Homo sapiens: one gene and its partners. The protein of the gene in region 4 interacts with the protein of the main gene of each other region in a biochemical or structural test. Each region holds a gene or a part of one and is shown on either strand. Other genes may lie near its edges.

What was found.
Region 1: the proteins of NEDD4 (region 4) and GABARAPL2 form a complex in vitro, tested with the Homo sapiens proteins (2 studies listed by BioGRID and IntAct).
Region 2: the proteins of NEDD4 (region 4) and TNIK form a complex in vitro, tested with the Homo sapiens proteins (2 studies listed by BioGRID).
Region 3: the proteins of NEDD4 (region 4) and ESS2 interact in a test that uses a peptide from one of them, tested with the Homo sapiens proteins (2 studies listed by BioGRID and IntAct, with this or other methods).

Annotation. Positions count from the first base shown.
Region 1 is NC_000016.10:75,569,379-75,572,878, reverse strand, and holds part of GABARAPL2 (gamma-aminobutyric acid receptor-associated protein-like 2), read right to left. Parts: intron 1-3,500. UniProt on the Homo sapiens protein: Ubiquitin-like modifier involved in intra-Golgi traffic. Modulates intra-Golgi transport through coupling between NSF activity and SNAREs activation. It first stimulates the ATPase activity of NSF which in turn stimulates the association with GOSR1.
Region 2 is NC_000003.12:171,082,906-171,086,405, forward strand, and holds part of TNIK (TRAF2 and NCK-interacting protein kinase), read right to left. Parts: intron 2,325-3,500; coding exon 2,213-2,324; intron 1,421-2,212; coding exon 1,250-1,420; intron 1-1,249. UniProt on the Homo sapiens protein: Serine/threonine kinase that acts as an essential activator of the Wnt signaling pathway. Recruited to promoters of Wnt target genes and required to activate their expression. May act by phosphorylating TCF4/TCF7L2.
Region 3 is NC_000022.11:19,141,852-19,146,037, reverse strand, and holds the start of ESS2 (splicing factor ESS-2 homolog), read left to right. Parts: upstream 1-1,386; 5' UTR 1,387-1,397; coding exon 1,398-1,532; intron 1,533-1,545; exon of another isoform or gene 1,546-1,914; intron 1,915-3,143; coding exon 3,144-3,312; intron 3,313-3,404; coding exon 3,405-3,500; intron 3,501-4,186. UniProt on the Homo sapiens protein: May be involved in pre-mRNA splicing.
Region 4 is NC_000015.10:55,840,113-55,843,612, forward strand, and holds part of NEDD4 (E3 ubiquitin-protein ligase NEDD4), read right to left. Parts: intron 2,052-3,500; coding exon 1,822-2,051; intron 616-1,821; coding exon 494-615; intron 406-493; coding exon 335-405; intron 1-334. UniProt on the Homo sapiens protein: E3 ubiquitin-protein ligase which accepts ubiquitin from an E2 ubiquitin-conjugating enzyme in the form of a thioester and then directly transfers the ubiquitin to targeted substrates. Specifically ubiquitinates 'Lys-63' in target proteins.

The DNA.
Region 1 (3,500 bases), on a different chromosome or scaffold from region 4:
CTGTGGCATCAAGTACCACACGCATTCATCTGAGAAAGATGCTGCTCTGAGTACAGAAGCACTGCCACCTTCCAAGCTCTGAGTCTGGCAAAGAAAGAAACGGGTAAAGCCAGTGGTAGATTCAAGCCATGGAGCTAATCTAAGGTGAAGTGGGACCCTGAAGTACTATGTGAAAATGAATTTAAACTGCCCCCTAAAGCCCTCTCCCCAACCCCTCCACTGAATGACACAGATCCAGGTAAAACCACTTCTCCAGTGGAGAAACTGTGCAATAAAAAAAGGAAAGTTGCAGCAAGACCTACATCCAGGAATGGCCATGTGACTCAAGACAGACATCAGTTTATGCTACCAACAGCGCTATGCATTGGGAGAGGCTGACCTAGAACTGTATGGATGCCCAATCCCTAGAGAACCTACGTTCGCCCCAACCAAGGGCAGGTCATGGAGGCTGTGGGGTCTACACCGACTCATGAATTGGCTGGGCTGATGAGCACACCTGGCCACCCATCTGCTTTGGAGTCCACGCGCTTCCACTGGACCTTGGATTATCTCTTCTCCAGCAGGGCAGGATGGGTGGTGGGAGGTGGAAGGGCAGTGACCACTACTGTCAATCCTGGAGAGGCACTGGCTTCACAGTGAAAGTTAATAAGGCCCTGAGGCTCCCCAAGATTCTAAAATAAAAAGATTAACCACTGGTTGTTGTTCCTTTTTTTGTTTTGAGACAGTTTCACTCATGTCACCCAGGCTGGAGTGCAGTGGCGTGATCTTGGCTCACCACAACCTCCTCCTCCCAGCTTCAAGCGATTCTCCTGCCTCAGCCCCCGAGTAGCTGGGATTACCGGCGACCGCCACCACACACGGCCTAGGACAGAACATATTTATCTGATAAAAAGAACAACTAGGCCGGGAGCAGTGGCTCACGCCTGTAATCCCAGCACTTTGGGAGGCCAAGGTCGGCGAATCACCTGAGGTCAGGAGTTAAGAGACCAGCCTGGCCAACATGGTAAAACCCGTCTCTACTAAAAATACAAAAAAAGTAGCCGGGCGTGGTGGCAGTCGCCTGTAATCCCAGCTACTAGGGGGCAGAGGCAGGAGAATCGCTTGAAGCTGGGAGGCAGAGGTTGCAGTGAGCTGAGATCGCGCCACTGCCTGGGCACTCTAGCCTGGGCGACATGAGTGAAACTCCGTCTCCAAAAAAAAAAAAAAAGTCCTGTCCTTAAAGAGGTATTTACCCAGAAATGATCAAAGTGCTTTAAGCACATTTCTAAATAAAGGATGATTAAGTGTGGGGTGAGAAGTCATTAATTGGGCCTGAAGGGTCAGGAATTGGATTTCTGGTTACTCTGTCCTAAAATCCTGACTTGGGTTACTGGTATAATCTGCTTTAGGGTGGATTCTCAGCAGAATGGAAAGGCAAATGGGACTTGGAGAGAAAATGGCCTTGAAGCAGTCTCTGTTGCCCTGAAAATCACTTTTCATTTCCAAAACATCACAACTTCCTTTTACTGAAGATCTCTTTAAGATCCAGAAGCAAATAAACACCATATTCTTAAACAGCACAGGTTTCCCAATGTCAGTTATAATATCTGGCCAGGCATGGTGGGTAACACCCATAATCCCAGCACTCTGGGAGGCCAAAGCAGGAGGATCACCTGTAGCCAGGAGTTTGAGACCAACCTGGTGAGGTAGGAGGACTTCTCAAGCCCAGGAGTTCAAGGCTGCAGTGAGCTATGACTGTGCCACTGCACTCCAGCCAGGGTGACAGAGCAAGACCTTGTCTCAACAACAATAAAAAATAATATCTTAGAGATATTATATTTAATGATATACTCCTGTTTCTATTTTAAACAGGGGATTAACAAGACTCTTATCTATGTTCTAAACAAACAAAGACCAAAGACCATTCACTGCCAGGTCTGAGTTCCCCTCTAACGTCATGACTAGGAAACTTGTACACTGATGTTTTTTCTGAAGTTCTGTCTGAACAAAGGCATGGTTCCCCATTCCGTTTTTGGCCTGATTCTTGATGCTGGCACCTAGGCAGAGAATTCAACTTTCCAATGCTAAATGGGAAAAGGCCATTGTGATTCCCTCTTTTTTAAATGAAACAAGAACTTAGAATTTAGGAAGTAAAACTTAGGGACTTGCCTCTGTCTCTATTTATAGAATCAATATTTAATACTAACTACTCTAAATAAAAATCATGACACTTTACATGGTGACCGCCTGTTTTCCACTCCAAGGCAGAAATAACTGAGAACTCACTCCCCTTCAGCCTCAGACATAATTGATCTTCATGCAGACCAGTCAGTCACCGGAGAGGGAGGGCTCCTGCAGGCCTGAATTCGTCCCTTCTCTAATTTCCCCAGCCACTCTTTGAAGCCAGCAAGCACTGCATGAAGGTTAAGGGAGGCTCCATGCTCCCCTAAGGAAGCTGAAAAGACCTGAGGAAGAGGCTGCTAAATTGTCTTGGGGAAGAGATGGTGAAGCTGAATCACAGCCAGCTTTAGGAAGGACCCTGTAGCACTTTTTATGTTTATGGGTGATTTATATATTGCATAAAGCCCAATGATGTCACACGCCTCTTATGTTTAGAAACAAATTTATATTTTTAGCCCGGTGTGGTGACATGCACCTGTGGTCCTGTCCCAGTTATTAGGGAGGCTGAGGTGAGAGGATCACTTGAACCTAGGAGGCAGAGATTGTAGTGAGCTCAGATTGCACCACTGCACTGCAATCTGGGCAACAGAGTGAGACTCTGTCTCAAAAAAAAAATTACTTCTGAGAATAAAACCCCAAAATAAACAGTTGCATTAAGTGTAGGGTGATAAGTCATTAACTGGGGCCAAAGAGCTGACAGCCTGGGCAAAAGGGCCCTAGCTGGTGACTCTAAATCCTGAAGGGTCAGGAGCTGGATTTCTGGCTACTCGGCCCTAAAATCCTGACTTGAGTTACCAGTGTAATCTGCTTTAGGGTTGATTCTCACCACACTGGAAAGGCAAATGGGACTTGGAGAGAAAATGGCTTGAAACAGTCTCTGCTGCCCTGAAAAATCATTTTTCATTTCCAATTCTATTTCTATCTCAGGGATAACGGGGGAGGGGAAGTTGATAAGACCTGTAGCCATTTTAATTGCTAGATTACTGTGGAGCCATCTGAGTAATCTTAAGGTCTCCAGAAGCCTGCTTCATTTCCTTTGAGAAGAACCAGAGAATCAGAATTGAGGAAAATAAACTCAATGCCATAGGTCCTAGTCACTTATTTTCTCCCACTAAGCCAACACCTCCAGGAAGTACAAAACACAGAGTCACCAAGGCTCTGTAGAAGTTGCAGATGTTATGAAAGAAGATTACCTCCCCAAACACGTTAAGGAAAGCCCAGGGTAACCACGGATGCCCAAGGCTTCCTCCCCTGGTGAAGACACAGCCCAGAGGCCTGGGAAGGAAGGTTAGAAGAGCCCCATGGGTGACAAGATCTCCTCAAGCAACACCACAGCTTCC
Region 2 (3,500 bases), on a different chromosome or scaffold from region 4:
CCCTCAAGTTTTTGCTCTTTTTTAGGGAAATGATAAACCCATTCAAGAGAAGTGTTAATAGCTGGAGAGTCACAGACATACTCACTTTAAGGGACTTCTCAGGTCTCTAAATCTAGTGCAGCCCAACACCCATGCAGTAATCCCTATTACAGAAGCACAGGCACATAAGTGGCTTTGTCTGGGTAGTTGTAATCCTAAAAATTTATGGCTAGGGAAATGTATCATCCACCCCTCAACACACACACACATTGAGAGGCTCATTGTGCAGTGTACTTTATTCATGAACATGTAACTCTCTAACTTCTCTTACGTCTTGTACTTCTATCTTCTGATCAACACAAATGTCTGCTTTTTTGTCCATATATTAATCCTTTCAGTATTAAATGTGGCTATCTTGTTCTCTTCTGTCTCTTCTCCAGAGGACAGAGCCTCTATCATGAAATGGTTCCTAGGCTTCACACTCTTCCCCGCTAACATCTCAAATGCTTTCAGCCTTTTAAAATTATGGTTCCCCAATCCAAGCCTAGTATTTTCAGTGGGTACACAGGGGACATGTCCTTCCTTAATCTGTATGAGATGTTTATAGTAACACAGACCAAGACTTTGATAGAATCTCATCATGCCTCTCCTGAGTTTGAGGTCAGCTAAAACCTGCAGATCTTTTTCACGAGAAAATGCAGATTGATGTTTTAAACTAAAAGGGAAAGTTCATTAAATTATTTGTTGTTCTTTTCAAGTTTTATCTTGTTATTGCTAGGGTTATGACCTTTAGTAATTCACAAAAATACTCTGGGCTGATTTTTCAGCTTGAAATAAAGGTTTATGCCATTATTTATGCTCATATTCCCCTTGCAGGATGTGGTATGGATCATGGAGAATGAACGTGGGGTATATCACAAAGTGCCAGACACAAATCGCCTCTGATTGATCACATTATAGGCTTTGCTTTGCCCACTCAATGTATTCAGTGGTAGCTAGTTCTCTTGTTGGCTTTAGCCTATCACTATTGTGTGACAAGGTTGCTCTGAATCTAATCTCGTCTTCCTGGCTAGTAGCGTATCAGCTATTTCTACATATAAAACTCCTTTTGGTTTCTCCTGAGGTCAAGATAGTCCCAAGTTAGGTCTCTAATACCCAGGATTCAACCAGTGTTCTTTTGATGACAAGATCCACAGGCTTTTAATGTTTGAGGGTCAGTTCATTAATGAGTGGTTATTTAAAAAAAAAAAAAAAAAAAGCACCAACATACCCCACAGAGCTGCACAAAGTATTTCTGAGTTGAATCGTTTCTTGTATTTTCTGATTTCTGGTGTGTCGCTATGAGGCCGAATGTTGGTTGGGTTTACATTTACCACCGAAATCTTTCTTGCTTCATTGAGTTTGGCCTGTTCTTGCCTAAGAAGTTCGCTAGTAAACAGAGCTTTGAGAAAAAGAATCAGAGAAGTCAGTGACATCTTAAAAGATAACTTATGGAGATGGGGCTTCAAAACACTATGATTTCTCCTTGTTTGGTTTGAATTATAGTAAAGGCAAGGAAACTCTGAAACTCTCCTTATTTTACACTTTTTTTTTGTTTTAGTAGAATAAAGTCTAAGTCATTCATCAAAGGAATCTTTTATTCATTAGAAAAACAGGCTTATAGACACTACTTGCAGAGTCTAGAAAGTCCCAAATTAAATACACCATCCCCACTCTTGTATATAGGCAAAAAAGATCTACTTTTTAAAATTGCAGTTTATCAGTTGAAAAACTGTCCTAAGCTGACTTTGATGATTAATTACTTGAAGAAGATTAGAAAGCAAGACTCCTTTAAATCAGCCTGATCTTTGTGGTGGGAAGCACACACCTAGAACTCAACACAATGTACCATACACTTATTAAGTGCCTAATGTGTGTAAAACATTGTACCCAGAAATTGTTTTGGGGAAACATTTAGTTATGTTCAGAGATCACTGAGGAACAGCTTTTCCTAGGGTCCCTATGTACCCCTGGGTCTACCAGAAACGAAATAGAAGAGATGGGAAAAAAAATGGAAAGTAATACATTTGTTTTAGGAGTCCTACAGAAATAATAATTTTAAAAAGTCTTCCTTTTAAGATAGGACCTAAGCAGTAATCAGCTTAACTACTGAACTGAGGATTAATTTCCTTATCAGGTCATACCAGAAAGGAAGACGAAGCTGTTTTTTAAACACAGGGCCCTTCTTGCTTACCTGCGGCTGATGATTCCTCATCCTCTTCATCTTCATCAGTGGGAGACGTCTGGTATACTCTGGGGTCCACAAAGGGGGTGAAGGAGGCTTTGGTGCTGCTCCCCATGCCATACTAATCAATAAGCAAGAAGATTAAGAAGAGCAGATAAATACTGCAGGAATAACAATGCTAACAATACTGTGCTTGGGCTGTAAAACGATCACAGATTCTTCAAGGTATTCAGGTGTTCACATTCTAGTGCTCTAGTCAGTGCGTGCCTGTCTCCAGCTTCTTCTGGTATTGGTTACTCACTAGTCATTGTGCATTCGTAGGACTTCATTAATTATCAGACTGCAAGAATTGTAGTGAGAAAATTACATTTTGGACCACATGTGGCACCTTAAAATCTGTAAGATCACTGTGGTGACAGAGCTTACCTCTCCCTTTCAGTAAAAGCAACCTCCTATATTGACTACTTGATCAATATGAAAAGCTGACATAATTGGCAATAAACTAAGTAAGGAAGCCTATACAGCAGTACTTTATCCTGAACAGAGTCAAACCAAGGGGCTTTCTCTTGGGGAGGAGAGCTTTGAGCCCTTCTACTCTGGCCTGGTGATGCAAGTGAATTGGTGTTGGCTCCAAAAGCTTTAAAATCCTCAATTCAGGGATGATTTTATGCTGGAATTGAAGATATTTCCTTCCCACGATAGTTTCCTTAAAAGAATAATTACATTTACATCCTTATTTAGGGACTTCATGAGGATATTACGTTTGTGAGCAATGTACCTTGAAGGCTTACTTTAAAAAATGAATCTTGGGCTTGAATGGCACCATGAAAACATGATGTCAGAAGGAGATGAGGGAACAGTAAACTCAATATCAGGGTTTTATGTCACAATATTCTAAATTTGAGTTTTGCTGAATAAGCTGCAATGTCAGTCATGTCCATTTCTTCTATTCTTGTCCTTTAACATCATAAACACATCTGTATTCAACATAATAAGCACATCTTTTTTGGATAAATATCTTTAACTAAAGGTTATTTCACTTTAGTTTTACTGTTAGGTTTTTATTTAAAAATAAAACCACCATCCAAGACCTCTAAACATATAAGGAGAAAACCACAAAGATCTAATCTGATTTAATTCAAGATTTTCTTTCCATCCTATGAAATCAAAACCATTTCATCCTCCTCAAGGTTGAATTCCCCCTACCAAATAGAACACTTTCACGTACATGTTCTCTTTTGATCTTTGGAAGATGTCTGTGAAAGAGGTAGGGCAGGCACTAACATTTCCACATAGA
Region 3 (4,186 bases), on a different chromosome or scaffold from region 4:
ATTAATTTTTTTTTTTCTTGACAGAGTTTCACTCTGTCACCCAGGCTGTAGTGCAGTGGCACAATCTCTGCTCACTGCAGTTTCCACCTCCTGGGTTTGAGTGATTTTCCTGCCTCAGCCTCCCAAGTAGCTGGGACTACAGGCACCTACCACCACTTTGTATTTTTTTTTTTTTTTAGTAGAGTTGGGGTTTCACCATGTTGGCCAGGCTGGTCTCAATCTCCTGACTTCAAGTGATCCACCTGCCTGGGTCTCCCAAAGTGCTGAGGTTACAGGCGTGAGCCACCGTGCCTGGTCTTGAATGAGAATGATCCCTCTTCTGGGAAGCCCACTCTGGCATTTGGGGGCCCAATAATCTTTTTTTTTTTTTTGACAGAGTTTTGCTCTTGTTACCCAGGCTGGAGTGCAATGGTGCAATCTCAGCTCACTGCAACCTCCGCCTCCTGGGTTCAAGCAATTCTCCAGCCTCAGCCTTCCGAGTAGCTGGGATTACAGGCGTCCACCACCATGCCCAGCTAATTTTTTTGTGTGTTTTTAGTAGAGATGGGGTTTCATCTTGTTGGCCAGGCTGGTCTAGAACTCCTGACCTCAGGTGATCCGCCTGTCTTGGCCTCTCAAAGTTCTGGGATTACAGAATAATCTTTAGACATTTCTTAATCGAACCACTGTCTTGTTCTTTCACCTTTTGTTAGATAACTATAAAAAAAAAAAAAAGATTGTTTTGGCCGGGTGCGGTGGCTCACGCCTGTAATCCAGAGACCAGCCTGACCAACATAGAGAAACCCTGTCTCTACTAAAAATGCAAAATTAGCCGGGCGTGGTGGCCCATGCCTGTAATCCCAGCTACTCGGGAGGCTGAGGCAGGAGAATCCCTTGAACCCGGGAACTCCGGTGAGCCGAGATCATGCCATTGCACTCCAGCCTGGGCAACAAGACCGAAACTCCGTCTCAAAAAAAAAATTGTTTTAAGGCCCTTTTCTTGCATAAAGCTTGAAACTCCTATATAAGTAAATTTCCTGGTTTGTATTTTTGTAGAATAATCTCGAAGCATACATAGTTCTTATTTGTGGGAAATTAGAATTCTAAGGCCTTTGGACGCTGCAAAGCCAGAATTTCTCGCGTGAAGAACACGCCCTATAGCATCCTCCCCGCCACCTCCACAGCACCCCCTCGTGTTCACAGCATTGACAAGCATGAATAGCGCGGGGCAGGACAAGGACTACATTTCCAATAAAGTCTAGCATTTATAGTGACGTCAGAACGGAGCGCGGGCTGGCTTTCTAGAGCCACAGCTTTTCCATTGGCCAACTATTGGAGGCGCCTGCGCAAATGGTGCAGTCCCGCCCCCTCCACCCTGTGACGCGCCTGCTGGGCCCGAGCTTTTTCCTGGGATAGCGATGGAGACGCCGGGCGCATCAGCGTCGTCCTTGTTGCTTCCCGCCGCGTCCAGGCCCCCGAGGAAGCGCGAGGCGGGAGAGGCTGGGGCTGCGACGAGCAAGCAGCGGGTCCTGGACGAGGAAGAGTATATCGAGGTACGACCTCGGTGCGGACGCCGGCGACTTCTGGGCCCATCCTCTGCTTCAAGCTCCTCTCAGGTTCCCTCTCTCGGGTGTTGACACTCCGTCTCCTCGTGGAAGTGGAGGAGCCGGGTGTGGACGGTCCCACGAGTCAAGTAAACAGGGCAGAGGAAGACGTCTGTGGTGGAAGAGGCTGTAGTAGTGTTGTCAGGGAAAAGAGAGAGCGGCTCTCTTTGTATGGGACGGGGGTCAGGGAAAGAAGATTTTCTGTTAAAGTGTGAGTAGGAGTTTGACAAACTGGAAGGATGGTGGCAAAGAGGGCTTTCTAAAGAGCGGTGGCAGCAAGTGTGAATGCTGGGGTTCCTGGAAAGAGACCGCAGTTGTGACAGCATCTCGAGTGAGTGGACCTGCGTCGCCCCACCACACGCACACAGAAGGAGGAGCTGAAACGGGGATTGGCGGAAGTCAGTTTGGTTTTAGACCTGTTTAATTCGGGACACCTTTTGGGATATGTAGATGGATGGCTTTAACGGACGGTTGGGTGCCCAGATATGCAGCTCGGGAGCAAGGTCTGGCTGGAGGTGCAGACTTGGGAATCTCAACTTGTGGTAGTGACTGGCTGAAGTTACTCAGGAAAAAGGTTTATTTTTATTTTATTTTTTGAGACGGAGTCTCGCTCGTCGTCCAGGCTGGAGTGCAGTGGCGCGATCTCGGCTTACTGTAACCAACCTCTGCCTCCTGGGTTCAAGCCATTCTCCTGCCTCAGCCTGCCGAGTAGCTGTGACTACAGGTGCCCGCCACCACGCCCGGCTAATTTTTGTATTTTTAGTAGTGGTGGGGTTTCACCATGTTGGCCAGGCTGGTCTCGAACTCCTGACCTCAGGTGATCCGCCCGCCTTGGCCTCTCAAAGTGCTGGGATTACAGGCGTGAGCTACCATGCCCCGCCAGGAGAAAGGTTTAGATTGGAAATAGAAAGTCATGTGTGGAATGAAAGTGACAACACCCACATTGGTCTGGCTTGTGGGGAGCCAGCAATGGAGAATGAGAATGACCAGTTAGCAAGGGCGAGAGAGAAGGGTTTCACGGACTTCAGAAGAGTGTTTAGTAATGTTAGAGGTTGCAGCATGGCTACCATATGGGATGCTCAACCCCACTAGAAAGTGCCCTCAAGCTCCCTCAATCCAGCCCCAGTCATTGGGGAAGTAGAATTTGAAGGAGGTTCAGCAAGTTCCTTAGCATGTACAGCAGTGGACCTGTGAGGCAGGAGCACCCAGACTGCAGCTCCGACTTTCTTTTTTCTTTTTTTTTTTTTTTTTTGAGACGGTCTCGCTCTGTCGCCCAGGCTGGAGTGCAGGGGTGTGATCTTGGCTCACTGCAACCTCCGCCTCCCGAGTTTAAGCGATTCTTCTGCTTCAGCCTCCCACGTAGCTGGAATTACAGGTGCCTGCCACCACGCCCGGCTAATTTTTGTATTTCTAGTAGAGACTGGGTTTCACCATGTTGGCCAGGCTGGTCTTGAACTTCTGACCTCATGATCCACCTCCCTTGGCCTCCCAAAGTGTTGGGATTACAGGTGTGAGCCACCGCGCCTGGCCTCTGACTTTCATTCTGATCTCTCCTTGCAGGGCCTCCAGACGGTCATCCAAAGGGATTTCTTTCCTGATGTGGAGAAGCTCCAGGCACAGAAGGAGTACCTGGAAGCCGAGGAGAATGGAGACTTGGAACGGATGCGCCAGATTGCCATCAAGTTTGGCTCTGCCTTGGGCAAGATGTCCCGGGAGCCCCCGCCACCCTGTATGAGGACCCTGTGGGTGGCGGAGAGGGGAAAGCCTGCTGAACTGTCGCTTCAGGCTCACTCTAATTCTTATCCCCCTCTCTTCCCCTAGATGTGACTCCAGCCACATTTGAAACCCCTGAGGTGCATGCAGGCACTGGAGTGGTGGGCAACAAGCCCAGGCCCCGCGGCCGAGGCCTGGAGGATGGTGAGTGAGGGTGCCCTCTTTAAGTCACATGGTCAGGATTGCCTGGGAATCTTAGCCTGTGAGGCCCTGAGGGGGTGGTCCAGAGGGCTGCAGGCCACATCTTGTTCCTGAGGGGTCTTGCGTAAATAGCAGCCTGTGAAGTCAAAGGACATTGGTCTAGGTGGTAGAACATCTGGGTCCAGCTCCCACACATGGCTCGCCTCTGTGAAATGGGACTCTCACCAGCTCTTGCTGGCTTTTCTGCTGTGTTCCAGCCCTGCCCTGTGGGCTTCATGGATGTTGGAAGGCCCCTTTTGTTACTATCCTGAAGATGCCTCAGGGCCTCTCCATTTGTTTCCTTCATGTTGGTCACTTCCCAGATAACTGCATGGCTCACTGTGTTTCTTCCTGTAGATCTCTGCATAGGTGTTACCTGTTCAGAGAAACTTTTCTTGACCTGCCAGTGTGAAGTCACAACACCACTGGTGCTCTGTGGCTTCCAGCCTGGCTTTGGTTTTTCATCACAAGACATTTTATTTTATTTAATTTCATTTTATTTTTAATTTTTTGACACAGAGTCTCGCTCTGTCACCCAGGCTGGAGTAAAATGGTGTGATCCCGGCTCACTGCAACCTCCACCTCCCAGGTTCAAGCAATTCTCCCTGCCTTAGCCTCCCAAATAGCTGGGATTACAGGCGCCTGCCACC
Region 4 (3,500 bases):
GTATTTAGTGGGATGTTTAATGTTATCTATAACTTACTCTGAAATGCATGAAGAAACTAAGACAGACTGATGGATAGACAGATAGGTATGTGATAAAGTAAATCTAGAAAAAAAGCAATTGTGAGTAGTTGATATACAACTGTCCAATGTAAAATTCTTCCAACTTTATTATATGTTAGAAAATTTTCATAATAAAATGTTGAGGAAAAAGTTCATTTGTATTTTGAAACATGATAATATATTAATTTCCATGTCATTAAAAGCAAATTCTTCAAAATGTTCAAGCTGCTTGTTAAATTATACTTCGTCTATACTATAAGTGAAAAAGACATACCACAGATTCCATATCATGAAGGGTTATTGGTTTGTGAAGCATCATCTTGTAAAATGGGCGGATGAAAAAACCTTGCAAAAAACCAAATACATTTAGGATGATTACCAAGTGAAAGAAAACAGGTAATTATATTGTAAAAAGTTTATACTTAATACTAACCATCCAACAGTTTGCCATGATAAACTGCCATTCCAGCTACCCGACCAATAAACTTGAAGTAAGAGAGGTGATCTTCGTTACACAATCCAGAGTTTGGATTTATCTGTAGGGTATAATTGTCCCTGTAAAGACAACCCCATTTAAATACTTCATTTGAAAAACTTTAATATGACAAATAATTACAAATAATCTTCCTCCTTTAAGAGTTGTTTACCACTGTTAGAACCACATTCCTCCACTGGATTTAATGGTTTTAAAAATAGTAATTTCTGTCAAAAAGTGGAAATAACCCAAATGTCCTTTGGCAGATGAATGTATAAACAAAGTTTTGTTTGTTCGTTTGTTTTTGAGATGGAGTCTTGCTCTCGCCCAGGCTGGAGTGCAATGACACGGTCACAGCTCACTGCAACCTCCGCCTCCCAGGTTCAAGTGATTCTCCTGTCTCAGCCTCCCAAGTAGCTGGAATTACAGGCGCCCGCCACCATGCCTGGTTAATTTTTGTATTTTTAGTAGAGACAGGGTTTCACTATGTTGGTCAGGCTGGTCTTGAACTCCTGGCATTGTGATCCACCAGCCTTGGCCTCCCAAAGTGGTGGGATTACAGGCATGAGCCACCACGCCCAGCCTAAACAAAGCATTATATGCAAAAATAATGGAATATTATTCTGCCTTAAAAAGGAAGGACATTCTGATACATACTACAACATGGATGAACCCTGAAGACATCATGTTAAGTGAAATGAGCTGGTCACAAAAAGACAAATATTGAATGATTCCACTTATGTGAGGTACCCGAGGAGTCAAATTCATAGGGACAGAAAGCAGAATGGTGGCTGCCAGGGAATGGGGAGCGAGTGCTTACTGGGTATAGGGTTTCATTTTGGGAAGATGAAAAAGTTCTAGAGTTGGATAGTGGGATGGCAGCACAACAATGTGAATGTATGTAATGACTCTAAATTGTATATTTAAAATGGCTAAAATGGTAACTTTTTTTTTTAGAGGAGTCTTGCTCTGTTGCCCAGGCTGGAGTGCAGTGGCGTGATCTCGGCTCCGCCTTCCGGGTTCACGCCATTCTCCTGCCTCAGCCTCCTGAGTAGCTGGGACTACAGGCGCCCGCCACCACGCCTGGGTAAGTTTTTGTATTTTTAGTAGAGACGGGGTTTCACCGTGTTAGCTAGGATGGTCTCGATATCCTGACCTTGTGATCCGCCCGCCTCGGCCTCCCAAAGTGCTGGGATTACAGGCATGAGCCACTGCACCCGGCCGACTCTTACTTTTAAAACAGTGATTTTTCTTTTTCTGCCGATAATCATTGTAAAGGTACTTACGTAGCAGAATATTCAAACAACCCATAATAAGGGTTAAACATTTCCTTTGAGATCAGGAAGAACCATTCTCTGGCAACTCCTCCATAATCCAATCCCTTTTCACCATCAAACTCAATCCACAGTCGAGCCTTCAGGAAGTCTGCTCTCTTGACACCCATAATTCTCCGGTAAGAGTCTTCAAGAACAGTTGCTCGGCGAAGTTTCATTTCAAATTTGTTTGGAATGTCATTCTGAAAATCCAGAGGAGAGACGTACTGTTTAAATCAGTTCAACATAATAACAAACCCATCTCTCATAAAGTTATAACATTCCCTCTACACCCTGTGTCCAAGTCTCTTTTTCCTTACGTAATATACTCAGGGAAAACACAACTAGGTATATTGTCTTGGTTTCCTCTATGGTATGAGACAGTTTCTGCATTTTCTTTAATCACTTAGTAATATAGACTTCTTTACATCTGAAGAAGCTTTTGTTTTTGGAGACAGCTCTGTAGTCCAGGCTGGAGTGCAGTGGCGTGAACATGGCTTACTGCAGCCTCGACCTCATGGGCTCAAGTGATCCTCTTGCTTCCGATTCCTAAGTAACTGGACCACAGGCGCATGCCATCATGCCTGACTAATTTTTTAAGTTTTTGAGGTCTTGCCATCTTGCCCAGGCTGGTCTCAAACTCCTAAGCTCTAGCAATCCTCCCGCCTTGGCCTCCCAAAGTGCTGAGATTACAGGCATAAGCCATGGCACCCGGCCTAAAGAAGCAATTGATGGTGATGGTAATGCCCCCATGAAGGCATTTCGTTAACAGTCCTTTTCATATTAAGTTCCAATGAACACCGTTCTGTGACCTGTAGGATAGCCACTGCCTGCTAGCTGTTGTGCCTGTCTGTTCAGGCTTTTCCCTACCTCTACTTTCCTCCCTGGAGTCTATCTTGCTTCACTCATTAACAGATGGTGACATTTACAGACTGTGCCAGTGATATATTCTGGCTGTGTCCCTACCCAAATCTAATCTTGAATTGTAACTCCCACAATCTCCATGTGTCATGGGAAGAACCTGGTGGGAGGTGATTGAATTATGGGGGCGGATCTTTCCTGCACTGTTCTCATGATAGTGAATGGGTCTCACGACATCTAATGGTTTCTATGCACAAGCTCTCTCTTTGCCTGCTGCCATCCATGTAAGATGTGACTTGCTCCTCCTTGCCTTCTGCCATGATTGTGAGGCCTCCCTAGCCATGTAGAACTGTAGGTCCAATAAACCTCTTCCTTTTGTAAATTGCCTGGTCTCAGGTATGTCTTTATCAGCAGCATGAAAACGGACTAAAACAGCCAGGCATGGGTACCCTGGAATGGCAGGTTAACGTGTTTAACCTCATAACAACACTATGCGAAAGCTACTATTATTGTCTTCATTTTACACATAAAACTGAAGAAGACGACTTAAGAAAGTCTTAGCTCCTGAGTCTGTGCTCTTAATTAATGGAGCTACATTGCCTCACTAATCTTTTGTACGTTCTTTGCTTATGTGACAAATGTACACAACTATGCTTTAGGCAGAACTTATTGTAAATTTTACAAAAGATATATCTAAATATTTTATTCCTCAGTACTTCATGGGCAAATTTCCAGGGGAAACCAGTAAGAGAAAACATGCCATCAATATTCTGTCACCTCCAAAAAAGAAG